Linked DNA regions of Homo sapiens: regions 1, 2, 3, 4, 6 and 7 are each linked to region 5. The links come from fine-mapping of genetic effects on gene expression. A gene starts in region 5. Each other region holds a variant in brackets. All regions are shown on one strand. Distances are from middle to middle.

What was found. PIP is the estimated chance that this variant, and not a neighbour inherited with it, causes the effect. A credible set is the group of variants that fine-mapping cannot tell apart.
Region 1: its variant is the best candidate, but not a certain one, in a credible set for the expression of GCNT1 in whole blood (INTERVAL, PIP 0.65).
Region 2: its variant is the best candidate, but not a certain one, in a credible set for the expression of GCNT1 in whole blood (TOPMed, PIP 0.64).
Region 3: its variant is the best candidate, but not a certain one, in a credible set for the expression of GCNT1 in thyroid (GTEx, PIP 0.50).
Region 4: its variant is the best candidate, but not a certain one, in a credible set for the expression of GCNT1 in whole blood (TOPMed, PIP 0.67).
Region 6: its variant is the best candidate, but not a certain one, in a credible set for the expression of GCNT1 in whole blood (TOPMed, PIP 0.62).
Region 7: its variant is the best candidate, but not a certain one, in a credible set for the expression of GCNT1 in T cells (TOPMed, PIP 0.53).

What each region holds. Positions count from the first base shown.
Region 1 is chr9:76,661,661-76,665,727 of GRCh38, forward strand. All of the region lies in intron 9 of PRUNE2 (prune homolog 2 with BCH domain), which reads right to left. It overlaps LOC105376095 (a long non-coding RNA gene), which reads left to right. Exons shown (of 12, transcript XR_007061586.1): 12 at 1,975-2,879. Among named protein-coding and RNA genes, the nearest start is that of PCA3, 100 kb to the right of the region's middle. The variant T/G (reference allele first, on the strand shown) is at 2,512.
Region 2 is chr9:76,559,434-76,563,500 of GRCh38, forward strand. It overlaps LOC105376093 (a long non-coding RNA gene), which reads left to right. Exons shown (of 3, transcript XR_007061584.1): 1 at 1-1,432. Among named protein-coding and RNA genes, the nearest start is that of GCNT1, 100 kb to the left of the region's middle. The variant A/G (reference allele first, on the strand shown) is at 2,504.
Region 3 is chr9:76,617,835-76,621,901 of GRCh38, forward strand. PRUNE2 (prune homolog 2 with BCH domain) reads right to left here. Exons shown (of 19, transcript NM_015225.3): 18 at 1,506-1,553. The region is part of intron 5 of LOC105376095 (a long non-coding RNA gene); the gene reads left to right. Among named protein-coding and RNA genes, the nearest start is that of PCA3, 140 kb to the right of the region's middle. The variant G/A (reference allele first, on the strand shown) is at 1,897.
Region 4 is chr9:76,695,735-76,699,801 of GRCh38, forward strand. The region is part of intron 9 of PRUNE2 (prune homolog 2 with BCH domain); the gene reads right to left. Among named protein-coding and RNA genes, the nearest start is that of PCA3, 67 kb to the right of the region's middle. The variant G/A (reference allele first, on the strand shown) is at 1,759.
Region 5 is chr9:76,457,220-76,461,286 of GRCh38, forward strand. It overlaps GCNT1 (glucosaminyl (N-acetyl) transferase 1), which reads left to right and starts at 1,963. Exons shown (of 4, transcript NM_001490.5): 1 at 1,963-2,086; 2 at 2,841-2,958. RefSeq lists silencers at 1,748-2,287, 3,278-3,347 and an enhancer at 2,898-3,007.
Region 6 is chr9:76,633,413-76,637,479 of GRCh38, forward strand. PRUNE2 (prune homolog 2 with BCH domain) reads right to left here. Exons shown (of 19, transcript NM_015225.3): 14 at 4,006-4,067; 15 at 3,059-3,145. The region is part of intron 6 of LOC105376095 (a long non-coding RNA gene); the gene reads left to right. Among named protein-coding and RNA genes, the nearest start is that of PCA3, 130 kb to the right of the region's middle. The variant A/C (reference allele first, on the strand shown) is at 2,278.
Region 7 is chr9:76,421,303-76,425,369 of GRCh38, forward strand. It overlaps a transcript of GCNT1 not described here. Among named protein-coding and RNA genes, the nearest start is that of RFK, 29 kb to the left of the region's middle. The variant C/G (reference allele first, on the strand shown) is at 1,694.

The DNA of each region.
Region 1 (4,067 bases), 200 kb after region 5:
CCAATGTGTTCTTAACAACATAGCCTCAAAATATGTAAAACAAAAATTGAAAATACATTATAAGGCAAAATAAATTTCATGGGGTAAAATCTGAGTATACCTCTCAAGAATTTATAAATTAATTTGAAAAGAAATATATAAGAATATGGCAGATCTGAACAATGCAGTAATATAGCTTGATCTAATGGAGAGATCTGCAGTCAATAAAAACACAGTTTTTTTTTTTTGAACTCACCAAAACTTACCATACGTGATGTCTCATAAAATACCAAAAGTCAACATCACATGTACTATATTCTCTGACTTCGGGGCCATACCTCTAGTTATCAATCACAAAAAGTCTCCAATCACAGTTTGGAGACTAAAAAACACACGTGTAAGTAACCAAACAATAAAGCCCTGCACATCCAAACTTGTGAAAGCAGCTAAAGAAGTTCCTAGAGGAAAATAAATAGCCTTAAGTTCAGATTTTAGGAAATAAGATGAACTGAATTAGCTAAGCATTCAACTCAGCCCAGGAAGTTATAAAAAGAAACATGCTCTTAGGTGACTTGATGCTATTTATGCTAAATCTTTGCACCTTCTCTAATGATCCTGAATACCACCAAATGGAGAAAGAACGGTGATAGAAATGGAAGTCTCCAATTTGAGAATGAAGCCCACGTATATTCGTAGATTGTGTGTTTCTGATACTTACATTTCTTCATATGGAAGGCTAATTGCAGTATGTGACAGAGAATGAAGGACAACAAATGCAGAACTTTTGGACATAAATGCACCTTCTTGCCTTTAGAACAGGTACAAAATTAAGCCCATTCTGCATTTTGTATTTTTTCAACGTATCTGAATCTGGAGGGATTTGACTGTTGTTGTAGGATTAGCTTTGCCTGAGATTAGGTTCTTTTTAACAGGAAATGAGCAGTGAGCCAAGAGCTGGCACACACATACCAGTAGCATTTCTAGATGGTAATGTTTCCTGACAGACACGGATATCCAGCAGCAGGTGGCACCCCTTTTCAGGAATAACCACTTTTACAAGATTGGCCACTGAAATATATACCTCCATAAAAAGTAAAGTAGCAGGTCATGACATGGGGTCCATTGTTCTTTAGAAAAATACTGACGGTTATGCTGATATATTTTGGGAAAATGATTACATAAAGAGAAATATCTCTTGTGTTAAGAGTTCCTTAATACTCTCCTGGCTTCTTTCTAGTCTATTAAGATCTGCTGGACTGATAAGGTTGCTGTCTCTAGAAACAGAGATAAAAAGAAAAAAGAAAACACAAACAAAACCTTTCATGAGGTGCTTGCCTTCCCTCGTTAAGAATATCAATTAGCCTATGGGCTGGAGGACTGCCATTTGAGGGTTCTTGTCTGATAAAGTAGGCTGCTCCATTTAAGCCAGCAGTACATGGCACCCTGTGAACCACAGAGTACTTATCAAATTACTCAAAGTAGGAGGTGAGACTGAAGCAGCACTGAGCTTCACACTTTGCCTAATCAAGCTAATCCCAAGACAGGAAATGCTACAATAGGAAGCTGGGGTCAAGCCCATGAAATAACGCTCTTTAGCAACAGTTCGCTAACCCAGCTGGGCCTCTCTCATCCTAGAACAGGTAAGCACTGTGGCCAGGCAGGGAGAAGCATCTTAGAAGCCAGCCAGCTGAAGAGAGATGAAGGAGGGAGGTGAGAGCTGGAAACTGACTGCACACAGTAGGAAGATAAGCGCCGAGCACTCGCCCAGACACCTTCTTTAGGGAATGTGCAAAACTGCAGAAACCACAGCTAAACATTCTCAGGTTCTCAGAGGTGGGGGACACGACGCAGCCTCCTTACCCAGGGTCAGATTCTAAAATTCTGCAGGGAGCAAAAAAATCACTTGTAGCTCAATGATCCTCAAACATTTTCTTGAATTGTTCCCTGAATAGAGTGTACATGGTTTTGCATGTCAATTTTTTTTTCTTTTTACAGTGAGGCTTAAACATGAAAATTTGAGGAACGCTGAGCAGGAATAGAAGGAAAGCCTACATTTTTATCATTTCAACCTCTTTGCTTTTCAGAGAATAATTAACTCCTTGGCTGTGAATGATGGATGCATGGAGAATTCTACCTCTTGCCTGCAGGCTATTTGCTAGCTTCTTTTAATATTTTTCCTATAACCTTAAGATCTATGAATAGATTTGTTTGTTGTGGAGAAGATTAAATTAGATGGCATAATCTCACATTGGAGAGGGGCATATACTTATTTAGGAAGTGAGTTTACAGTTCACAACCAGGATGGCTCAAAGGGATCTCAAACTGAACATGTTCAAAACCTAATCCCACATCTTCCTCTACGCAGATCCGCTACATCCTACCTTCTCTGTGACGACTTTGAAAAGTGTCCATGAATTCTTTGACACTCTTTTCAAAAGGTGGAGCCTAATTTCCCGTCCCTTAAGTGTGGACTGATGATTTGCTTCTAAAGAACAGAATAAGGTGGAATGGATGGTAGGTGACTTCTAAGGC[T/G]AGGTCCTAAAAAGCACTGTGTGCTTTGTTCTCTCTTGGGTCTCTCAGTCTGGGAGAAACCAGCTACCCTGTTGTAAGGACAGTCAAGCAGCCCTGTGGAGAGTCCATGTGGCAAGGAACTGAGGCTTCCTGTGAAAATCCAGGAAGGAACTGAAGCCTTCTGCCAACAGCCATGTGAACGAGCCATCTTGGAGGCAGATCCTGCAGCCTGGCTAATGTCTTGATGGCAACTTAACAAGATACCTTAAGCCAGAACCATCTAGCTAATACACTCTTGAATTCCTATTACAAACACTGGGAAATAATCAATGTTTGTTGTTTTAAGCTGCTAAACTTTGATATTATTTATTTTATTCATTTATTTTTTGAGACAGGGTCTTGCTGTATTGCCCAGGCTGGAGCGCAATGGAGCGATCTCGGCTCACTCCAGTCTCCATCTCCTGCGTTCAAGTGATTCTCCTGCCTCAGCCTCCCGAGTAGCTGGGATTACAGACGTGCACCACCATGCCGAGCTAATTTTTAGGAGAGATGGGGTTTCACCATGTTGGTCAGGCTGGTCTCCAACTCCCAGGCTCAAGTGATCCTCCCACTTCGGCCTCCCAAAGTGCTGGGATTACAGGCATGAGCCATTGCACCTGGCCGAGATTATTTATTATACAGCAATAGCTAACTAATACATTCCTCATCCTAGTGAATGTCTCTACATATCACCTGGGCACTCAAGCTCCCAAACTGGCATTCACTCTTACTTTCTTTTCTTTCCCACCATTTCTTCCTCATCCAGTTGGCCATCCAATCCTATAAATTTATGTCATCCTCTCCACTCCATTCTCACTACAAAAGCCTTAGTTCAAGTTCATTTTTTTCATGCAGAAACATCACCACCTTTCTGTTTACGATCGTCATCCCTACCTCCTCCAAATTATAACTAATATCCTTCTTCATCTTAACCTTGACACCACCTTCTTGTGTTTAAATCCTTTCAATTCACCACTTCAGGGAAAGAATTTGGCTTCAGAGAAGGGCTCACAAGGCCCTCTTGACCTGGCCCCTAAGCCCAGACTCAAGCCTCCTTTCTCATTCCCCACTCCCCACTTAGCCTTGCCAATCTTGCTGTCCTGTACTACTCAGTGTGGACATCTCCATCCTGGAACCTCGCCTCCATCCCACAGAATCGGGATCTGGGACCTCACCTCCACCCCACAGAGTAAGGTCCTGGGACCTCACCTCCATCCCACAGAGTGGGGACCTGGGACCTCACCTCCTCCCCACAGAGTCGGGTCATGTCCCATAGCACCCTGTGCTTACCTCACGTGGATGCTGCCATGTTCCTATGATTTCCTGTTTGAAATGTGTCTGCCCCCACTCCTCCCCACTGCCACCCTCTCCACACACACATGAATCTCCTGGGGGACAAGCACACCCAGTGCTTAGCACAGGGCTCAGCACATGGTGGAGATGAATGAGTCACTATTGAACAACACAGATTTAGACACGTGAAGGTGCCCTGCCCTTTGGGTAAAGTGCTCCTCAGAATGTCTCACCACATAGTGAAA
Region 2 (4,067 bases), 100 kb after region 5:
ACTCCCACACAGCTTACCATCCATATCAGGGGTTGGCAAACTTTTCCTGTAAAGGGCCTGATAGTAACTATTTTAGGCTCTGTGGCCATATGGTCTCTTTCATAACCATTTAACTCTGTGTTTGTAGCATGGAAGCAGTCACAGACAACATTTGAAGGAATGAACATAGGACTGCTCCAATAAAACTATAAAAACTGGGCATGGACCAGATTGGGCCTTTGGGCTATGGTTTGCAAACCCTGGTGTTGGTGAAACTGATTGTACTATTTGGCTTCATGAATATGACCTTATTCCTCCTCTGTCTTCATCACCATGATTTTTCCACTCCAGGAACCTCTTGCTCAGAATAATAAAAGTTGCAAATATCTTTGGAAAAATTTATTTGAATGAACATCATACTGTGGAACCCTTCACTGAATTGTAACAAATGGATTTTCTCTCCAAGACTCTTCAAAATTCTGTCTCAAAATTCTTGCCTTGCTGTGTCTACCAGTCCTAAACTACTATATCTCAAGCTCCTGCAATGAAAAGCTTGCTTTCATCCACACCCTCAAATATCATCAATATTCCAACTTATTTTTCCCTACTCAATGGCGAAGATGGTCAAGGTAGTGATCTCCCTGAGTGCAGTAAGCAATTAACTTCAGTGCTGTGTGCTAGAATTTTCAGAGTCCACCATAGTGAAGGGCTATCCCAGAGGAAGTTATCATGTTGTTTCTGTTGCTTTTGCTATCATGATTGCTTGGCCTCCAAATTAAAGGATATACTAATTCACTCATTCATTAACAAATATATATGTTGAGAGCTTATTACACACATGTCCTCATGCCAGTTAGTCTTGATAGACATGTATAAGTAAAAACCAGGCAACTTTGCTCTGTGGAAATATGATAGAAAAAGATAACCTTTCCTCCAGTGATTAATGACATTTATGTTTACTTTCTGGAACTTTAAAAAATTGTGTCACCAGGGATTTTGACATGGAAAGAAACATTTACTCATTAAAATCGAGAGCTTCTTGGTTTCTTCAGTCTCCTAGGTTCAATAATCCACAAGTCTGCAACTCATAGTGCATATATCCAGGAGTTTTCTGGAGGAATGCCAGGCATGGCTGAAACAGCAATCTTTTGACCATAACTACTGGGGGGGGAAAGCAGCCCTTGCTGTAATCATCGTTCATAAAAACTCTGGAATTTACTTGCACAAAGAGCTCATTGAGAGCTGACAGTTCTGCTACAGCCATTCCTTTCTTTCCAAGGAGGAAGCATCAGAAAAATGAGTGGCCCAGCTTGTGCCATTTCTGCAAAGGGAGTGTTCAAAAGTCGGTGCCTTGGGTATCAGCAGGCTTGGCTTCCCAAATGGGTGGAGGTAGCAGTGTGGTCCTGGGGAGAGTGCCCGAGACTCGAGTCAGGGCCTAACTCTGCCAACTGAGGTGAGTCACTGAGCCATGCAGGGCCTCTATGTCCTTGTCTTGGAAATGGACATGGGAAAACAGTAGCACCTCATTTACAGGAGGCTCGTGTTAAATCAGCCAAGAAGATGGAGATTAAATTGTTGTATAAGTCAGAATCTCTTTACCAGTGCTAGTCGCTGTTATTATTTCATTAAGGCATGGTTAGAGTTGCCATTTTAGCAGTTTTACAAAAGACTTCCCTCTCACCCCACCCTCAAAAGTCTTCCCCGTAGTGCCAGGATTTCTGTCAACAGAAAAGCAATCTTTCTTTATCCTATTTATCCTCTTCTTGTTTGGACTCTTTTAAAATGCAAGCACCTCCCCAAAGGCATAATACATCAAAGTAATTCATACTAACACAGATGTGGCTTCTTGAATGCTTTGTTTCTCTCAGGAGGGATCAGGTGGTTAAGGATGGATAATGAAGAAAAAAAAGATTACTAAAAAGCTAGGAAAAGTCATTTTAAAAAGGAGGAATGCCCACAGAATAACAGAATTGCCTTAGCCTTGCAGAATTAAAAGATTAATGGTTTTTGAAGTGAAATGTAGGCAGGTTCCTTTTATATAAAATAGAAAAAAATCAAAGCTATAGTGGGAGTCTCAGAGTCTCACCCACCATCTCAGCCTCACGCTGATCCCTCTACAGCCCACAGGCCTCTCTGTGGAATCCCAGGGCTCTGAGAACAGTTTGAAAACCACTGCTGGCTTACCCTCCACATTGCAGAGGCAAAATGACCTCCAGGAAGAGAGATGGAAACAGCCACTCTTCTAATCAAGTGCTGGTGGCCCTACATAAGAACAAACTAATAATAATCAACATTTATTGAGATCTTACTAATCCAACGCTCTTTGGCTAAATCATATGCATTATCTGATTTAATCTCCAAAACAACCGTATGGGGTAGGTACTAATTTCCCTCCCATTTTACAGATGAGGAAACTGAGGCTTAGAGAGGGTAGGAAAGTCAGACTGAAGCCAGCTACTCCCTTCTGTCATATTGTTTTTGAAGAAAACTTTTATTTGTCCCTCTCTGCCCCTTGGCACCACAG[A/G]TGTGATCTAGAATTTCTGTAGAACATATATTTAGATTTCAGTACAAACATACATTGTTTTTAGCCTGGATTGATATTTTAGAAGAGGAAGGAAGAATTTGAATTAAAATAGAAAGTTCTTTTGTGGGTGTAACAAGTGAGTGAGCATACAGGCTTAGGCACATGATGAGGTTCTATTTTCCCCCTATGTTGCCAACTCTGGGTCATTATTATTTTCTTTTCAAACCTAGCTTAAGCTTACTGAGTAAATGAAGAGGGGGAAAGTTGACATACTGCAAATAACAAAATACCCCACTTTAAAATCTGAAATTCATAGCTGGACCTGGTGGCACGTGCCTGTAATTCCAGTTACCCAGGAGGCTAAGGCAGGAGAATCACTTGAACCTGGGAGGTGAAGGTTGCAGTGAGCTGAGATCATGCCACTGCACTCCAGCCTAGGGGACAGAGTGAGACTCTGTCTCAAAAATAAAATGAAATAAAATAAAATAAAATCTGAAATTCCGATGGAAGAATTACTCTGCAAAGCAAAACAACATTAAGTGCTGTTACTGCAAAAAAAGAAAACAAATCTGAAACTAAGCTCATCATGGAAACTTTTAAGTGAACTCTAAAAGAGAGAAAGAGAAGGAAAGAAACCCAATGAATAAGGGCATTCTTCTTTCAGTTTAAATGTGCCAGAGAGAAGTGAAAAATACTTGATTCTCTCACTGGCAGGAACAGATAACCATTTTTGTATTAGTCACCAGCAAAGTCATCATTTACTTGGTTTTAACAGCTTCAGAATTATGAAATAGTAGTATTTCAAGACTCTGAACATTCTGCTTCAAGATGAGCCAGCCTCTCTTAGAGATAGAAAGATGAAAAAAATGGGGCAACTGACAGGCAGGCAGCTCATGCTGGTTTTTGAGTTATTTGTCTCATTCTTGTCTATTTGCAAGAGCTTGTTGCATGTTACAGACACTGACCCTTGGCTTTGGCATGACACATTTTTTTGAACTTTTTTTGTCAGTTGATTTTGTACCTGGCACATTTTTCAGATAAGGGATTTGTATCTGTTTATGTTCAAATATTTCTGTTTTTTTTTTCTCTTAAGTTTGTGGGATTCCAGTCTCTGTTAAGAAGGTATGCCTCATCTCTAGTTTGTACATACTCTAGGTTTTCTTACATGATTTTTTTGTTTTAGTTTGCATTTGAGACTTCATTCTTTTCTTTTCTTTTTTAAAATAGAGATAGGATCTAGCTCTGTTGCCCAGGCTACAGTGCAGTGGCCCAAACATAGCTCACTGCAGCCTCAAACTCCTGGGCTCAAGCAATCCTCCTGTCTCAGAAAGTAGGTGGGACTACAGGCACATGTCACGATGCTTGGCTACATTTAAATTTTTTTGTAGAGATGGGGGTCTCACTATGCAGCCTGGACTGGTCTTGAACTCCTAGCCTCAAGTAATCCTCCCGCCTCGGCCTCCCAAAGTGCTGGGATTGCAGGCTTGAGTCACTGTGCCCAGCTCTGAGCCTTCATTCTTTATGTAATTTATACCATTTTGTATTGTGTGAGACAGAGGTCTAC
Region 3 (4,067 bases), 160 kb after region 5:
GCCAGCCATTGGCTGGGCTTCCACATGTGCCCTCTCTGCTGCTTGTTAACTGTGGGCTCTGTTAACTGCTCAAGGGGGGTGCTGTTTTGCTGAGGGAAGAAATAGTTGCAAAAAGAATTATCGTGCACTGGGGAATTGAGGTATTATTGCTTTGCAGAATTTCATGTGCCAATTTCCTTGAAGCAATTGTTATCTTCATCTAAAAGAGGTGGGACAACAGTGACCTTTGGAAAAATAGCTGTGTGATTTCAAAGGTCTCTCTATGGTCTTTGTTCTTTTTTTAAAATTTTATTTAGAAAAAATAAATTTTCCTTGCAGAGCAGGGCTAACTCATAGGCATGCATCCAGAATTGGCCCAGTCTTTGCTCTTTGTGAACTTTTTCAGTTGGGACTGTCTCTGGAGTTTTTGTGCCTAAACTTCCTTTAAGTTGCAAGGTCAACATGGCAAATGTGAAGATATTTCACTATAATTTTCCAACTTCCTTTTGGACCTCAACGCAAAGGAGGTCCAAAGACAGCAAAAGGTGACAATAGAGATGAGACACATTTAAAACTGATCTTTCCCCTCTGCTTCCTGATTGCTAGGAACAAGGGCAATGTTAAATTCTCCACAACTCAAACCAAATTGGAAGCTCCTTGTCGGATGACCAAGTTCTCTCTGAAAGCTTGCTGGTGACCACAGTTTATTCCCTGAAACTGACTTGGCCACTAATTCGCTCTGTTCTCTTAGGTGAATAGTTTTGTCTTTCATTAAATTGGAAGTGGTACACCCATCTAGCATTAAGACCACCTCTTTCTGATTTAAAAACCATTGGCCCTGGAGCTATACTGCCAAGGTCCAAATTCCAGCTCTGGGCCATTTTTACAGCTGTAAAACAGTGGGCTGGTCAGATCGTCTCTCCATGCCTCTCTTTCCTCATCTGTGAAATGTACCTCATAAACTTATTCTGAGGATTAAAATCAGACACTGCGTGTGAAGCTTTTTACAGTCTGGAACGTGGTTAAGAACTCACTACATGTCCAATTTCTGCTTCTCACAGGATGGCAATCCTCTAAATAGATCATTCCTACAGTCTCATACAGGCTCGAATTCCTCCTGGATGTTGCAAAACAAGCACATTTTCTCTCCATCCACCAAAGTATTAAATGGAAGTTCCAACTTCCACTAATTAAAATAGAGATGATGTCATTCAGAAAGCAGAATTGCATTCCTCTTGCCCAAATGTTCTTACATCTGGTCCTAATATTCATTTTCTTCCCATTTTTGGATTGGAAAAATAGAATGCCATGTCCACAGGTTGTCCTTTAGAAATTTAAGGGGTGATCGTGAATGAAATGGTGTGAAGCTGGCAAATATAGCTTCAGGTTTCTAATTTCAGGAATGGAGCACAGGAAAGCTGAACATCTAAACAGGGTTTACCCAGTCCTCAGTGTGTTTTCTTTCAGAGCCCAGCCATACAACACTACAAGTAACCACATAGCTGTTATTGATGGTGAATTCTTACTCCTTCTCCATAGAAGACATTTCTGGATCATTGTAAAGGCAGCTAGTTCTGAGTGCAAGGAAAAAATAGGAAGCAGTCAACATTTCCCCACTGTCACCACTGTGAAAGCACAACAGATTTGAGGCATTTGAAACTGTTTAATGTGGTCCCATTGCTAATACTGAACAAATCCATACCTGAACAGATGATAAGATTAAGCTGTAACCCTTACCATTGGTTTTGAAATACAAGTGATTGCCCATGATATAAAAACACAAAGCAAAGATTAAAAACTCCAAACACCTCCAGTGGTCTCTTCTGTCCTCATTTTTCCCTGCCTTTTCAATTTGTCTTATTCAGGGGACATATTACAAAATTGTTTTGGTACCCCAAATAATAAAATACACACAGA[G/A]GAAAATCCCTCTCAAGCAGCCTAATTTTATTCACCCATGAACACAGTTAATTTTCAGTTTTCACGAGAATGAGGATTTCCCAATACACTGAAAGAAAAAATGTCAGCGTCAGCTCTCCTCATTGTTGTTGTTACAGAAATAACAGGACACTTACCACTCCATACAGCTGAGCTGTGTCCAGGTGATACAAATGAATCCTACCATTTACCTCAACTGAGTATGCCCAGAAAACAAATGTAACCTTATAAAATAATAAATAAAAGTGTTTTTATGGCATTTATGTTTTTTGTGTAGTATTAGCTGTTTTTGATATACTGGTGTGATTTCTCTGTGAGCAAATTTCAAATTTGCTTCCTATTAATTCTTGATGAATACTCATTACACCTCAACTTTTATACCCCTCCCATAATTTTTTTTTTTTTTTTTGAGACAGAGTCTTGCTCTGTCGCCCAGGCTGAAGTGCAGTGGCACTATCTTGGCTCACTGCAACCTCTGCCTCTCAGGTTCAAGCGATTCTCCTGCCTCAGCCACCCAAGTAGCTGGGACTACAGCTGCATGCCACCATGCCCGGCTAATTTTCATATTTTTGGTAGGGGTAGGGTTTTGCCATGTTGCCCCAGGCTGGTCTCAAACTCCTGGACTCAAGCGATCCTCCTGCCTCGGCCTCCCAAAGTGCTGGGATTACAGGCGTGAGCCACTGTGCCCGGCCTCCCATAAATATTTTATTATTGACAAACAAACACTATTCTATTTAAAGAGCTTCTATGATCCTTTTTAAGTGCAGTTGTCCTCTTAGTAATATAATTTCACAAGCTAATTTATCTGTTTGCACATAAGAGGATCCATGATGAAGGTCAGGTGTTTTGTTGAAAATGACAGGCGGCTATCTCCCCAGGTGAGATAGCAACCTTCCTTTCTCACTCCCCACCCTTCTTGCTGGTGGTCTGATATTTTTATAGGGAATATTTGGGAATTCCAGTGAGCAAGGACAGTCAAGTAAGTGTTGACAGCGTGCTAAAAAAAACCTAGCAAAGCTGGAATGGAATCAAGAAAGGGCAATCTTCCAAACTCAGCTTTTCTGCTTTTTAATTTTGAGTAATCCTCCCAAGGAAAACAGCAATTTGCAAACCCTTTAATACTGTCACTCCAAAGGCAACACACGGATGCTTCCCAATTTTCAAAATAAGAATGGTTCTAGGTATACTATTTATCCTTCAGAAGTATAATACTTTCTTTCCTGTATACAGCTAAGGTTTTAAAGAAAAGATAAGGCAGGCTGAGGAAATCACCTTCTGAAGTCAATTAGAGTTGGGGTGCAGTTTGAGTGGTGGTATGTGTGTGTGTGAGGGGAGAGGGAGAATGTTGAGAAACTAGTGGGCATAAAGCAAAACAGTGGACAGATAGGTTTTGTTCCCTGACCAAGTGTACGTTTGCCTTTGGTTAGACCTAGCCTGAAGCTTTCTGAACAAGTCATGTGGAAAGTCAGGCGCATCTGTCAACAGGAAGAACCTGGGCATGTCTGGCTTCTAACCATAGATCTGCAGTGATCATGTTTATCATACAGTTTCTCCTAGAATTCAGGGGCTACTTCAGAGGCTAAAAGGTAGTTGAAAAAATGTTGCTGGTGGCCGAGATGGTGGGATTCTAAGGCATTCCAATCACCTGTGGGGTCAACAGAGTAGAATTTTTTCTCTGTACACATTTTCAAATGTGCAAATATATTTCAATTCCTCATACATGTGATGTTACCATCAAAAAGGTAGGATCAAAAGATCCTAGAGGGAGGATTCTTCAGGCAGATGGCTTACCCACTGAATCCAAAGCAAGAGCATAGACCTCCAAAACAAATCTGATTATTTTTATTTGGCCCTTGACTTTTAGGCAGTGGTTCTCAAAGCTGGGTCCTGAGACCAGCAGCATCAGCATCACTGGGAACTTGTTAGAAATGCAGACTTTTTTTTTTCTTGAGACAGGGTCTCACTCCGTTGCCCAGGCTGGAGTGTAGTGGTAAGATCAATTAGCTCACTGCAACCTTGAACTCCAGGGCTCAATGGATCCTCCCACCTCAGCCTCCCATGTAGCTGGGACTGCAGGCACATACCACCATACTTGGCTAATTAAAAAAATTTTTTTTTGTAGAGATGGAGTCCTGCTATGTTGCCCAGGCTGG
Region 4 (4,067 bases), 240 kb after region 5:
AGGCCTATTTATGGGGTGTCTAACATGTGGCAGGTGCTATTCTAAGCAACAGGGGTACCGTGATGAACAAGACAAACCAAACTCCTGCTTTCTTGGGGGTTATACTCTCATAGGTGGAGACAGATGCAACAGAATCAATTAAATAAATAAGTAAATAGAAGATCTTTTCAGATGGAAAAAAAAAAGTAGTAGCAATAAAATAAGGCAGAGAGATGGAGCAGAGTTCTCGACACTGGCAGTGTTGACATTTGGGGCTGGATAACCCTGTGTGGCGGGGGGCACTCCTGTGCACTGTAGGATATGTAACTGCATCCCTGGCCTCTGCCCATTAGATGACAGCAGTACCCACCCCAGTTGTGACAACCAAAATGTCTCCGACGTCAGCAAGTATTCCCTGCTGGTTCAGAACCGGCAGCTTGGACTTCTACAAAGGGTTACCCAATCCTGCACTGACTTTTTGATAGCCTTTGTTCCTGAAGAACTCTTACATAGATCTCAGAAACTGATCCTCCAATGTACTGGAGAAACAGTTAACTAATCGTGCACAGGAACATCTCAGGACAGTTTTCAGAGGCTGAGGTCCACCACTCTCCAATTCGGCTAGCTGCACTGAACAGCTTCTGTTTGCTTCGTCAGCTCTACTCTCCTACTTTCTCCATTTTGCTTTCTGCCCCAAGCCTCCCTCACCCTCCGACTTCCACTAGGTTTTTTGTTTGTTTGTTTGTTTGTTATCCAGGCTGGAGTGCAATGGCATGATCTCGGCTCACTGCAACCTCCCCCACCCAGGTTCAAGTCATTCTCATGCCTCAGTCTCCCGAGTAGCTGGGACTACAGGTGCCCGCCACCACACCCAGCTAATTTTTGTATTTTTAGTAGAGACGGGGTTTCTCCATGTTGGCCAGGATGGTCTCAAACTCCTGACCTCAAGTGATCTGCCCGCCTTGGCCTCCCAAAATGCTGGGATTACAGGCATGAGGCGCCACGCCCAGCCTCCACTAGGTTTTGACCAGTGAGGATCCCTGGTGGGAGATGCGGGGGAAGAGGCGGGAGTGCCTCCCGCTGGCCGTGTCCCTCACACTAGGTCACTATGCCTTTCAGGGTGGCCTTTTCTACCTGAAATAGTCTTTCTGGGTTCTGGTCATCACTCTGTCTCCCCACTCCTGGGGTCTAGGAAGAATAACAGCCGTACTGCTCCTGTTCTTGGGCTACGCACTATTCCTTGTGAGTTCCTCACACTTTGCCTCCATCTTCGTAAATACTCTCTTTATTAAATCTCTCAAATTTTCCTAATTTGAATGTGTCATCACTTTCTTGCTGTGCCCCTGATATGCGAATATACCCTGCTTTCGAAAGTCATGGCTTCTTGTCTTCCTCAAATACCAGCAATTTTCATAGAGATTTTTTTCCCCCTAAAGCAAGCAATGCCACTAGTTGTGATGTTTCAAGTTTCCAGCCAGAGAAGCACCTTGGGTTTTTCCTCAAACTAGAAGCCAATACAACACAAATGGACTCCTTTGTGGGCGTTCCTCCCACGGGGAAACAGAGTTGCACCACCTCATCTTGGCACTTGTGGCTCTCTCTGGCTGTAAAATCCCTCACCACAAAATACCACACCTATAAATATTTGGAAAACGTAAATGAACATTGAGGGGCTTTGATGCTCTCCCTTCCCTCTGGCCTCCAACCACTCGAGTTGGTCCCACACACCACAGATGGGGAGCAGCCCACTGACATGGCACAAGCACTCACAGATCCACC[G/A]TGGGAGCAAATATTTACTCAGGTATCAAAAAAGCCCAGTAGGTCACAAGACAGTCTGAGGAGTCAGGCATGGGTTCTGGCTCAGTCTGTCTCAAAATATCTCCTGTTACACTTTATGTGCCTTTCAACGAGATAACGGGAGAACAGGAATGAAAACATCAACCTATAGAAGCAGCTCAAGAGAAATGCTTGTTTGGGCAGCTGTGTTTCATTGACAACCACTGGGCTAGACAGAGAAGACTTAAATTTAGGTCCTAACCTCACCACTTTCTCATTTCTGGATGACATGAAGCAGTTCATGTGTTAAGTCAGTTTGCTCATCTGGCTGGGAAATGGGGAGAGGAACACTTGCCCTGTCTATCTCAAGTGTCATTTGGGTGGACCAAAGAAAATAATCTATTTGTCAGTCTGCAAGCACTTACTATGGAAAGTCTGCTCTGGGTAGGGCTGGCCAGAAATGTAGAAGTGGGTGGAGGGCATGACAGAGAGAGAAAGCAAGAGAGAAGAAGGAAATGAAGGAAAGAGACTAAGTCCTGAATTAAACTGCAAATGTAAAGGATTTTTTTTTTTTTTTGACAAAGTTTTGGTCTTTCACCCAGGCTGGAATGAAGTGGTGTGATCTCGGCTCACTGCAACCTCCGCCTCCTGGGTTCAAGCGATTCTCTTGCCTCAGCCTCCCGAGTAGCTGGGATTACAGGCGTGTGCCACCATGCCTGGCTAATTTTTGTATTTTTAGTACAGACGGGGTTTTGCCGTGTTGGCTAGGCTGGTCTCAAACTCGTGACCTCAGGTGATCCACCCGCTTTGGCCTCCCGAAGTGCTGAGATTACAGGCGTGAGCCACCGTGCCCGGCAAAGGACTTTTAATGATACTTATCACCACCAACTCACCAACATACCACACCAACAGATCAAATATAATTACAAAAATAAATGAACACAGAGTCAGTGCTAAGTTTGTTCTTCCAGGTTTGGTACAGGGCAAAGCCCAAAAATGGTGAATAGGCAAGGGCGCACTGGAGTTTAGAGAGCATCAACTCACCTCTGAGAAACGGCAAATGTTCAGAACTGGGGTACAGCTTGGTCTGCCTGATGTTTCTCAGGGTTCCCATTATCCAACACTGAGAGAAAGAGTCAACTGATTTTTAAAATCTATTTCTCATTTTCAACATTCACGTGGATAAAAGACCCAATGTACTAAACTCCCCAACCATAAGTCATAGACAGAAAAAGTCTGACTTCACGAAAAACAAAAAGATCTCACGGTGTCACTCATAAGCAGAAAGATAAATTCTTTTCTACAATGTTATCAGACATGAAAAAAGGTGAAAATTACTAATTTAAAAAGAAAAGATGCAGACAGATCACCATAGAACCAAATACACTGTGTTCGAAGGTCATCTTTATTTCAGGGAATACTGAATACCTCACCTCACAGAGCTAGGAAACAAGATACAGCTCCACAAGTATGAGGGTCAGGTGATGTCTCAATACTGTTTCAAAAGTACATGACACAACGATTTCCTCTCTTCTCCTTCCCCACCCCACCCCCACCCCCTCCCTCCATCCCCCATGGCTGCCTGTATCTCCAAAAGATTCATCAGTTGAATATCATCCCTTTTCTCAATCCTCTTGGAAATGATTTTTTAAAATTCCCTTGCACATTATTTCCTTGCTCATATCTATGGAAAGCCAATATATCTATATATCGATTATCACATTTTCATATAATTCAGATAGTGACTTTTAAAATTTTAATGACTTAATCCTTGTTTAACATATAGATCAGATTTTTTACTATAACCTGTGATAGTTAATGTTTATGTTTCGACTTGGCTAGGCTATGGTGCCCAGTTATTTGGTCAGACACCAGTTTAGATGTTGTTGTAAAAGTATTTTTTTAGATGTGATTAACATTGAAATAGGCAGACTTTGAGTAAAGCAAATTACCTTCCATAATGTGAGGGGGCCTTCATCCAATCAGATAAAGGTCTTAATAGCAAAGTCTGAAGTTTCCTGAAGAAGAAGGAATTCTCCTGAAGACTGCAGCCCAGAAACCTGCCTGCATTTCCAGCCTGCAGCCCTGCAGAACTCACATTCACGACTGCAATGCTGACTCTTCCTTGAGTTTCCAGGCTGCCAGCTTGCCCTATAGACTTCAGACTTGCCAGCCCCCATAATCGCATGAGCCAATTCCTTAAAATTCTCTCAGTAGCTAGCTAGATAGCAAGATGGAGATCTAAATACAGATATCTCCTATTTGTTCTGTTTTTCTGAAAAACCCTAACATGTAACCAAATTACCCCTTTC
Region 5 (4,067 bases):
AACAGCCAGCTATATTTTATTTTTAATTAATTAATTTATTTATTTTTGAGATGGAGCCTTGCTTTGTCACGCAGGCCAGAGTGCAGTGGCACGATCTCAGCTCACTGCAACCTCCACCTCCCGGGTTCAAGCGATTCTCATGCCTCAGCCTCCTGAGTAGCTGGGACTGCAGGCACACGCCACCGCAGCTGGCTAATTTTTGTATTTTTAGTAGAGACGGGGTTTTGGTATGTTGGCCAGGCTGGACTCAAACTCCTGACTTCAGGTGATCCACCCACCTCGGCCTCCCAAAGTGCTGGAATTACAGGCATGAGCCACTGTGCCCAGCCCCGGCTATACTTTAAACTTATGTTTAGCAATTAACATGTCAGTATTTTAACTTACAAATGACTCAGACATTTAATGAATATCTATTACTTAATTTAATATGTTCGAAATTTCAAGTCACCAAAAAAGATTTTTAAAACTATTTTTAAGTAGACAAATTTTATAAAACAAATTATTTTTAAAAGTTTATAAACTTTTATTCCATTTACATTTACCTAATCTACTTGCTCTTAACAATTATGCTTGAATTGCTCATGAAAAATTTCATGAGATATTAAACAAAGCTAGCCATTGAAGGAGTTCAGGAGTTTTTCCCAAAATCATTTCCTCTCCCCTAAATTGTCCCTCCCCAATGAAGAGGATACACAAGCTCCTAAAATCTCAGTTTTTGTTGGGGGAGGCAGAGGGAATATTAGTTTTTCTTTTCTGTGATACCCCCTACACGAAATCTGTGTACTTTTTCTCTTGTTAATCTACCTGCAGTCAATTTATTTCATAGACTTAGTTATCCAAGCCTCAGAGAGTAGAGGGGAAGTCTTTCTTCCTCTATACCATCATCTTATGTTAATTTTTGTTGACAAATCAGGCAAGTGTCAAACATATCACAGTCTAATGGCCTCTGAGTTGGATTTTTTTTTTTTTTTTTTTTTTTTTGAGATGGAGTCTCGCTCTGTTGCCCAGGCTGGAGTGCAGTGACACGATCTCGGCTCACTGCAAGCTCCGCCTCCCGGGTTCACGCCATTCTCCTGACTCAGCCTCCCGAGTAGCTGGGACTACAGGCGCCCGCCACCACGCCTGGCTAATTTTTTGTATATTTAGTAGAGACGCGGTTTCACCATGTTAGCCAGGATGGTCTCGATCTCCTGACCTGGTGATCCGCCCGCCTCGGCCTCCCAAAGTGCTGGGATTACAGGCGTGAGCCACCGCGCCCGGCCAGAATTTTTTTTAAACAACATGGAAACAAATAAGACCTCGTTCTGTTTTCTAGGAGCTAAAAATCCAACGAAAGAAGACACAGACACAATATTCCCCTTGTTACAAAGAGAACTGTGTCAACTTTTATAACTGACACAAAGATCTGTGCTATAAGGGCGGGGAAGGTTTTTTCCTACTTTCCACAGCACTGTGGATTGTTCCACAGTTTAATTTGATCTTAATTTTTATGTGGAAATACACATGAATGTAATGAGTTCTTAAATGCTAAATTTAGGAAGCAAGGTTCGTTAGGGGAGAGAAAAAAACACCTACATGGTTATCTCTAAACTTTACATATCGAGAACCTTGGAATTTAATTTTATTGTTGTTCTGTAACATATTTTCATGTTTAAAATCAGAAAAGGCAGCATTTCTCGAGTTTCCTGCTTTCGAGGAAGGGAGGCATAAAATGTTTAAAAAGACGCCGCTCACACACCTCTTAAGAATCAGAGCACAGTGAGGAAGAGGAGCGAGGAAGCACTAGGATCGCAGCGCTACTCCCAGACCACGTCAGTGCCCAGAGGGCGCCCTCGCCTGTAGGCGGGAACCGCGAGTCCGCAGCAAGTCCCCAGCCCCGAGCTCGCGCAGGTGGGCGAGGCGGGGACGTGGTGGGCGGGGCCTAGAAAGGCGGGGCCTCTGGGGGCGGCCCCGGGGCGGGCCACGCTGGTGTGAGGGCTGCAGGCGCAGCTCCGGAGCGCCTAGAGCGCGGCGCGGGGCGGGAGCTTGGTGGAGCAGGAGCGGCTGGGCATCCTCCTGAGACTCCGGGGTCAGACGCCCACTCCAGGTAACCGGCTCTCCCTCGTGTTCCCCTGCTCGGCCGCCCGGCGGTGGGGGAAGGCTGAGAAGGATGGGTGGGAGGGAGCCGGCTCTCAGCCAGTGCCCCGTGGCCCCGGGCGGGCTGGGCTCCCCCGCGGAGGAGGAAGCAGAACCGGGGTGCGCCCGGGACCGGAATGGAGCGGCGCCTCTTCCTTCCACCTTCATTTTCCGTCCGCTCAGTGGGGCTGGGACGCCGGTGCCCCGTGTCCCCTGAAAGTCACTTTCTGGCCTCTTGCCCCTGGTCCGTGTAGCTTAGATGTCGGAGGGGTTGGCTGCGGGCGTGGATAGGCAGGGAACGAACAGACTCGCTGCCATCCCATGGGTGCCAGGGGCTTAACTTCATTTAACTTCATTGAATCCTAACGCCAGCCCGGCTAAGATGCATTTTCACCCCTACTTTACTGATAAAGAGGCCAACGCTAGGATAATAAATGACTCACCCTGGAGCAAACTATTACTAATAAGAAAAGAGACGTTAGTTTAGGGGCTCCGAAGCCTCTCCTTTCCTGCTCCCTCGCTTTCCTTCTTCTCGCGGCAGTCTAGGAAACTCGCGCGCAGGGTCTATTACGAAAACAAGTGATTCGTCTTAAAAGCATTTTACCCCCTCCTAGGTTTCTCTTTCCTCTTTTTTTTAAGTATCTCAGGCAGATTCCTCCAAGTTTTGGTTATTAGGTTTTTGAAATGGAAGAAGCCCTTGCTCACTGCTTCTTTTCTCCTGGCAGCGCTTTCTGCGCAGCACAGGCACCCTCGCCTGTCACGCCTCCCTCTCCTCTTCCCGTCTCCCAGCGTGGATGAGGGCGCCTGCAGATCCCGGCTAGGGCACGGACCGCCTAGGCCGAGGTAGGTTCTGTAGGCACCTGGCATGCTGTAGATGCATATAAACGTTGCCCTGTACACCCTTTGCCTTGTTATTTCTTTCTGCAGAAAAGAGAGTCGGTTTTTTACACATAATGGGGCAAGAGGCCAATTGGGAAGATATATGGTGTTCAAAGAAAGCCGTGGTGCCTTGAGATGAGAATGCGGCCACAGCTTTTTGTGGGCTGAATTTGATGGGTGGGAGGTGAGAGACGTGGTCTGGAAGTTGTCTCTTCGTCTGGCATTCTGCCCCCCTTCCAGAGCTGTTCTGAAAGGCCGGTTTGTTTTATAGAGGGGAGGAGGAGGGCTTAGTAGTTTTTAAAGATCAGTGTAAATTACCTGCTAGGAGCTTAGGCAATTCCAGGCAGGCCCCCCTGCTGGAGGCTTTCGTAACAGATTTCAGTTCTAGCAGGGAGGAAAACTCAGACTGTGTAGATACCTGCTTTTTCTTAAAGGAATTTTTTTCGGGCCCTTAAAATGGTAGTTTTGGGAAACTGATTTCTTAGAAATGGCAAACTCCTTTATTTTAAAATACAATATACCAAACTATGAATTTACTTTTAAAAAGTTTTATTGGCCGAGAGGTTGATATTTTTTCCATTTCATGATGAGGGTTTGACGGTCACTGCCACCTCCTCTGCCCGTCCTTCAACTTGGCCCTGTAAAGGATCTCCTTAGCCTTGGCCCCAAGTTTGTACTAGATTCTATCCTTCATTAATTATAGTTCATTCTTGATTAATGATAGCAATGCTTCCACTCACTTTTTAAGGAGTTACTCCTTTTCCGTTTGTAATTGAATTGCTTAACAGTAAGAAAAACGTTTTTCCCTAAAACTGGGATCACAAAATCCACTTTATCCACATGGACTAAACAGGTAATGCACAAGAGTGCTTGGTTGGGCCCAGGTGACTGCAGAGGAACCTGCTAAGGCTGGGTGGATATTGGCCATTTCCACCGAGTATCCATGCAGGAATTCCCATTCAGCCATACAGTGTAGGCAGCTTTTTTTTTTTTTTTTTTTTTCCACGAATAGCTGAGAACTTTTACTTAAAAATAAAAAATGTAAAGCCTGATTTTAAATATTGGCTCATATT
Region 6 (4,067 bases), 180 kb after region 5:
CTGCCAAAAATACAAAAACTTAGCCAGGCGTGGTGGTACATATCTGTGGTCCCAGCTACTTGGGAGGCTTAGGTGGGAGAATCACTTGAGCATGGGAAGGCAGAGGTTGCAGTGAGCCGAGATCGCACCACAGCACTCCAGCCTGGGGCAACAGAGTGAGGTTGTCTCAAAAAAAAAAAAAAAGTTTCATCAGAACACAGCCACTTACTTGTTTGCATGTTTCCTACGGCTGCTTTTGCTCTATAATGGCAGAATTGAGTAGCTGTAACTGAAATCATAGGGCCAGTGAAGCCTAAACTATTTACTAGTTGAATCTTTATAAACAATGTTTGCTGGTTCCTGCTTTAGACAATTTATTTGACCTCCCTGAACCTCAGCAGTTTTTCCTATATAATGGAAATAGTAAACAGTATCTGCTTCAGGCTGGGCATGGTGGCTCATGCCTGTAATCTCAGCACTTTGGGCCAAAGCAGGCAGATTGCTTGAGCCTAGGAGTTTGAGACCAGCTTGGACAACATGAGACCCCATATCTACAAAAAAATAAAAAAATTTAGCTGATTGTGGTGGCATACACCTATAGTCCCAGCTACTCAGGAGGCTGAGGTGGGAGGATTGCTTGATCCCAGGAGTCTGAGGCTGCAGTAAGCCATGATCGTGCCACTGCACTCCAGCCTGGGTGACTGAAGGCGACCGTCTCTCAAAACAAAAAACAAACAAAAAAGTATCTACTTCAGAGGACTGTCATTAGGTTAAATGAGATAATGCAAATAAGCACTCAATAAATTAAGCCATTATTAGTCATAATTTACCACAACACTGTTGCTATAATTTTATTATTACTGTTGTTGTTATTATCTTGAAGCTCCCTTCAATAAGTAGTGTTGAATTATAATAATGTTTAATAGCCTTACAGTAACAAATGTTTTCTTATTGTTAAACTACATTTGGCTTGAGGCTTTCTCTGTAGTTTGAGTTCCTAGGTAGCTAACTGCAACCTAACATAGTATGTAAACAAAATTCCAACCTAACTTATGAGTATATTTTTGCAAAGACTAGCTGAGTCTCAGCCAATCAAAGCAGCTGAGCTTCAGCAATCACAGGTTGCCAAATGATCAGACCATGACCATATAAGGCAAATGCTTCATCACACTGTACCCAAATAAGATAACTGCTGAGCTGTACCCAATCAAGCTATTTCTATACATCACCTTGCTTTTCTCTGGACAAATACTGTCTGCCCACTTTGCTGGGAGGAGCTCTCTGAACCTCTCCTGGTTCTAAGTCATGCTGGATTCATAAATCATTTTTTGCTCTAATAAACTGATTGATTTGTCTAAAGTTTATCTTTTAACATTACTTAATCAAGAAAAAACATTTGTTTTATAAGTGCTGAATTATTAAGCAAACATCGATGAATCAGTAACTATGCTAATGTTTACCTTTCTACCCATTAAACTTTTTGAAAGCTTATCAGCATACATTGATTCCTACTCCCTAGTTACAACATTTCCTGAAAATATTAAAATAAGTGGCTCTTTGTATACCTTAAATAGGTCTAATATTTTTGTTTGTTTTTTGGAGGCACAGTCTCACTCTGTTGCCCAGGCTGGAGTGCAGTGGTGTGATCTTGCCTCACTGCAACCTCCTCCCAGGTTCAAGCGATTCTCCTGCCTCAGCCTCCCTAGTAGCTGGGACTATAGGCACACCACCACCATGCCTGGCTAATTTTTTGTGTTTTTAGTAGAGATGGGGTTTCACCATGTTGGCCAGGCTGGTCTCAAACTCCTGACCTCAAGTGATCTGCCCGCCTTGGCCTCCCAAACTGCTGGGATTACAGGTGTGAGCCACCCCGCTTGGCTGCTCATAATATTTTTAAAAGCAATTTAACACAGTATGGTAAACAGCTAATCTTTGCCAGAGGGAAACTAGGGTGAATCCTGCTACTCAATTGAAGATAAATTGAAATTTTCCCATCTTAAAATTATTAATTAATTTCGTCTAAAAATTCTGATAACTTCGTTTTTTCAGTGGTTTCTTCTTGTGTATAATGAAGATAATAACAGTATATCATGTGATTGTTTAGCCTTCAGTTTACCATTTTAACAATTCTTGATTTTCAGGTATATTTTTCAGCATTAGCAATTGGAAGTGGGGAATAAGAATAATAAATAAATATAACTAAATACTTAACAAGAAAGGTAGAATTTGGAAGCTACAGTAAAATCTATGTACACACAAAAAAAAGATTTTAAAGTTTATCTTTTTCCCCAGAAGCAA[A/C]GTTATCAGAATTTTTAAAAGAAATTCATTAATAACTTTGAGATGGGAAAATTTCAATTAATCTAATCTGTACCCTGATGGTGGGCAAATTTTATTGTTTTTAAAGCTATCTAGAAAGTAAATACTATCCCTTTCATTTAACTATTTGAAGTCTTACTATATTATGAACATAACTTATTTTACTTTGCATCCCTAAGATGTAAGGTTATGCAAAACCTAACATAAAATAAGTGACAAATAAATATTCACTGAATTGAAACCAAGACTCCTCAGGGGTGATCAAAACACAGCTCTCAAAATGGCTGCCCAGACTCTATATAACTTTGGTAGTTATATAAACGTTGTGTAGGTCTATTCAGAAGAAATGGCACAATTGAGACATGATATGGCTTCTGTTTCTGCCCTTGATTCATCTTTACTTTCCATTGTCATATTACTCTACCTTTCTATTCTCTACATAATAGCATATCACTTTAAATGTATTATCTATTCTCCTTTCTAATGTGGCATGAAAATCCCACCACTTCATCTTCCGTGTTTATAGCAAGCAATTTAGAGGTCCTGTTTTATAATGATCTGGGGGAAATATTCATCATGACAGCATTTTCTCTCTTAATTCGGGATTCTTGATGAATAGTCCAAAGCACCTTTCTAGGAAAGACAGAGACAAATATATTTCCCTGGGTACTCTTAGTTTATGAATTCTTGTTTTTAGGACAATGAGTACATATTTTTTAAAACTACTAGTAGTACTTTTATTTTATGACAACATTAACTGTACCTTATAAAAGGTCGTGTCACAGCAAGGATTGTTCTGATGAACCAAGATGGATGAACAATGATGAATGATTTCAAATTCTTCCTCAACCTATTTTGAAAAAAGAAAAAAAATACATTACTCTTAACCCATTTTCAGTGGGAATTAAAACATAAAACATATTCCTAAATAAGAATATATATAATTTAAGTCTGGCATGGTAGCTCATGCCTATAATCCCAGCACTTTGGGAGGCCAAGGCAGGCAGATCACCTGAGGTCAGGAGTTTGAGACTGGCCTGGCCAACATGTTGAAACCCCATCTCTACTAAAAATAAAAATAAAAATAAAAATAAAAAAATTAGCTGGGCGTGGTGGTGCCCGCCTGTAAGTCCTGGCTACTCAGTGGGTTAGACAGGAGAATCGCTTGAACCCAGGAGGCGGAGGTTGCCGTGATCCAAGATCATGCCACTGCACTCCAGCCTAGGCAACAGAGTGAGACTCCAACAACAACGACAACAACAAAAATGTGTGTGTGTGTGTGTGTGTGTGTGTGTGTGTGTGTATAATTTTAGGGAGTTCTATGCAAGTTACTATTACCTGGTAGGAAGATATAGAATGGCCATGATTAATTACAAGAATGCTTTTTGAGATGTAATTTGAAACTTGTATGATTCAAACGTCATTTTCTCATAGAAGTAAATGTAAAATAGAATGGTTGTGTTCTTAGAGTGCATGAATCTATAACCAACATGGTGTATTTTTGTTTAATGATGCTTTTATTCTCGTCAGTATTACCTTTACTATTTTGAAAAGAATACATGCTTAATAGCAACTTAGACAATTTATTTGATCTTATTGAGACTTGGTTTCTTCTTGTGTATAATGAAGATAATAACAGTATACCATGTGGTTGTTTAGTCTTCAGTTTACCAAAATCAAAATAGTGATTAAATAATAGAGCCCACATACCGTCTGTCAATCATCTGGTAGCATTTCTTCATCCAGCCTAGCCCTGGCATCCTCCTTCTTGG
Region 7 (4,067 bases), 36 kb before region 5:
AAATAAGTAAATGTTGGCTGGGCACAGTGGCTCACACCTGTAATCCTAGCATTTTCGGAGGCCAAGTCGGGCAGATCACACGAGGTCAGGAGTTTAAGACCAGCCTGGCCAACATTGTAAAACCCCATCTCTATTTAAAAAAAATACAAAAATTAGCTGACCATGGTGGTGTGTGCCTGTAGTCCCAGCTACTAGGGAGGCTGAGGCACGATAATTGCTTGAACCCAGGAGGGAGGCTGAGTGAGCCGAGATGGAGCCATTGCCCTCCAGCCTGGATGAGAGAGCAAGGCCCTGTCTCAAAAAAAAAAAAAAAAAAAAAACCACAACAAAAAACAACCCACACAATTTAATGTCTTATTGATGGCAACTCAATTTGTTTGTAGGTTGTTTTTTTTTTTTTTTTTTTTTTTGGAAATGGTCTCACTTTGTCATCCAGGGTGAAGTGCAATGGCTCAATCACAGCTGTCTGCAGCCTCCACCTCCTGGGCTCAAACAATTCTCCTTCCTCAGCCTCCCAAGTAGCTGGGACTACACATGCAAGCCACCACACCCGACTAATTTTTGTGTTTTTTGTAGAGCCAGGGTTTTACCGTTATGTTAGTTCATTCTTAGGCTGCTATGAAGAAATATCCAGGACTGGGTAATTTATAAAGAAAAGAGGTTTAATTGACCCACAGTTCTGCATGGCTGGGGAGGCCTCAGGAAACTTACAATCATGGTGGATGACACCTCTTCACAGGGCAGCAGGAGAGAGAATGAGTGCAAGAAGGGGAAACAGCAGAAGCTTATAAAACCATCAGATTTCATGAGAACTCACTCACTGTCATGAGAACAGCATGGGAGAAACCACCCCCATGATTCAATTATTAATACCTCCCACCGGGTCCCTCTCACGACACATGGAGATTATGGGAATTAAAATTCAAGATGAAATATGAGTGGGAACACAGCCACACCATATCAGCCATGTTGCCCAAGATGGTCTCGAACTCCTGAGCTCAAGAGATCCACCCGCCTCGGCCTCCCAAAGTGCCAGGATTACAGGTGTGAACCACGGCACTCAGCAGTAGCATCTTAATCTACGGTATATTTCATCCATTCACTATGCAGATAGATAGTTCTTGATTTATGTTAATTTTATTTATAATTTTTTGGCTTTATTATGGTGGAACAATGATATGCATTCAGTAGAAACCATACTTTGAGTACCTATACAACCATTCTGGTGTTTTTTGTTTTCATTTTGTTTTGGTTTTTTTGAGACAGGGTTTTGCTCTATCACCCAAGCTTGAGTGCAGTGGTGTGATTATGGCTCACTGCACTCACTGCAGCCTTGACCTCCTAGGCTCAAGTGATCCTCCCACCTCAGCCTCCAGAGTAGCTGGAACTACAGGTGCATGCCACCATGCCCAGCTAATTTTTGTATTTTTTGTAGAGACTAGGTTTCTCCATGTTGCCCAGGCTGGTCTCAAACTCCTGGGCTCAAGCAGTCTGCCTGCCTCAGCCTCCCAGATTGCTGGGATCATAGGCATGAGTCACTATGCCTGGCCTAACCATTATTTTTTTCACTTTTAGTACAATATTCAATAAATTACATGAGATATTCAACACTATTATAAAATAACCTTTGTGTTCAATGATTTTGCCCAATGGTAGACTAATGTAATAAGTATTCTGAGCACATTTAAGTTAA[C/G]CTAGGCTAAACTATGATCCTCAGCAGGTTAGGCATATTAAATGTATTTTTGACTTAAGGTATTTTCAATTTATGATGGATTTAGCAGGACATAACCCCATTGTAAACTGAGAAATATCTATACTTTTCTAACTTAGTCGTCCATGATCACCACCACCATTGCCATCACCCTTGCCATTAGGCATCATGTTTTCCTCCTTGGAGGTTGCCGTGGTTTAAATGTGTCCCCCAAAGTTCATGTGTTGGAAACTTAATCCCTAATGATGCAATGCTGTTGGGAAGTGGGGCCTAATTGGAGGTGTTTTGGTCATGAGAATTCCAACGTCATGAATGAATTAATGCCAATTATAAAAAGGCTGACACTGTGAGCTCATTCTCCTGCTCTCTTGCACCCTCCCTTTGCCTTTCCCCCATGGGATGATGCAGCAAAAAGGCCCTTGCAAGATGCTGGCCCCATGACCTTGAACTTCCTAGTCTTCAAAACTGTAAGCCAATAAATTTCTGTTTATTATAAATTATCCAGTCTCATGGATTCTGTTATAACAGCACAAAACAGACTAAAACAGAGGTCAGTCATCACAGTTACCAGTTTTGGCAAGCTTTTAATGAACAAAAGAATCACTTAATTTGTACTGCAAAATGGCATGTTTCCTGCAGATCTGCAATGAGAAAGGAACAGATGATGTTACGCTTTTTTTCTCAAGCTTCCATGAGATGGGGATTCAACAACTCTTCTAGGAATAATATAAGCTATGACATAGTTTGATGAAATCCATAGAAGTGAATTGATTTAATGCCATCATTAAAATTTCCACTGTAGAATGGCAAGGAATTTATTGAGATAGTATCCTTTTTGTTGTTGGTGTTTCTAAATACAATCTGAAATAATTTGTTAGATCAAAGGCTTGCTTTTCCTTGAACCTGACAGAGTTGGTTCACAGTAAAATTTACCACATCAGAACTATTTGTTGACATATTACTTTCTACCTTGCATTCAGCACTAGATGCTAGAGATTACAAAGAATGGTTTGCCTTGGAATCAAAGGTGTAGCAATTGACTGTGTAAACATTTTCTGAACTGTGATGTTGCTAAGAAGCCAGCAGGAGTGGGGGAAGAATTGAAGAGTGAAATGAATATCCATCCTTATAGACAGGCAAAAATCAGACTGTAATATTTTGTTTAATCTTATAAAAAGTATCTAGTATTTCAACACTTTAAAAGTCCTTGCATTTTTCAAAAGCTAGGCAGAACCTGGAATCAAGGCCTGGGTCCTGGGGAAGCAGTCTGTGCAGCAGGAGCCTGCCTCGGGTGCACATTTGAACTAGGGGAAAAAAAGTTGTTTCTACCTGTAGTGCCTCTCCAGCTTCCACTACTGACACAGCTTAACATTGTGCCAACAGGCAAAGGAACAATATTTAAAAGACCTAGGTCCATTTTCACAGAGTAGGTAATGAATGAATTTGGAACTGAGAGGCAATAAATGGATAATAGCACAGCAATTAATGTGGACTGGTGTCGGACTTCAGGTAAGGCTGGATCTTGGAGTAGCCCAAAAAGTTTGTAATAAATAAACTCTTTTTTCATCTCAAAAAAAGAAAAAAACTAGATAGACAAGACCTGGGCCTTAAAGTCTTTCTGTTTCACAGAGCACGCTGAGTAATATAAAACTGGATGATAGATAACTAAATCTCTTTTTGTGCCCTATTCAAAATGGAAAGGTCAAAAGTGGCATATTGGTGTTAAGACAAAGGTGATTCATTCACCACACCTCAGAAAAGAGTAAAAATGAAATTAGCCATCTTGTAACTAAAATCAACACAAATGTACTTGGTCTAGAACTTTCAATAAAAAAGGACATCGAGGCTGGGAGTGGTGGCTCACGCCTGTAATCCCAGCACTTTGGGAGGCCAAGGCAGGTGGATCATGATGTCAGGAGATTGAGACCATCCTGGCTAACACAGTGAAACCCCGTTTCTACTAAAAATACAAAAAATTAGCCAGGCGTGGTATCACGCGCCTGTAGTCCCAGCTACTTGGGAGACTGAGGCAGGAGAATGGCGTGAACCCAGGAGGTGGAGCTTGCAGTGAGCCGAGATCGTGCCACTGCACTCCAGCCTGGATGACAGAACGAAACTCCGTCTAAAAAAAAAAAAAAAAAAAAAAAGACATTGAACCATCACAAAAAGTTCACATGAAAAACGTCACCCAAAGCTAGTAAGGAATAGTATTTTAATTTATTTTTTCAGACAGAGTTTCACTCTTGTTGCCCAGGCTGGAGTGCAATGGCACGATCTTGGCTCACTGCAACCTCCGCCTCTCAGGTTCAAGTGATTCTCCTGCCTCAGCCTCCTGAGTAGCTGGGATTAAAGGTGA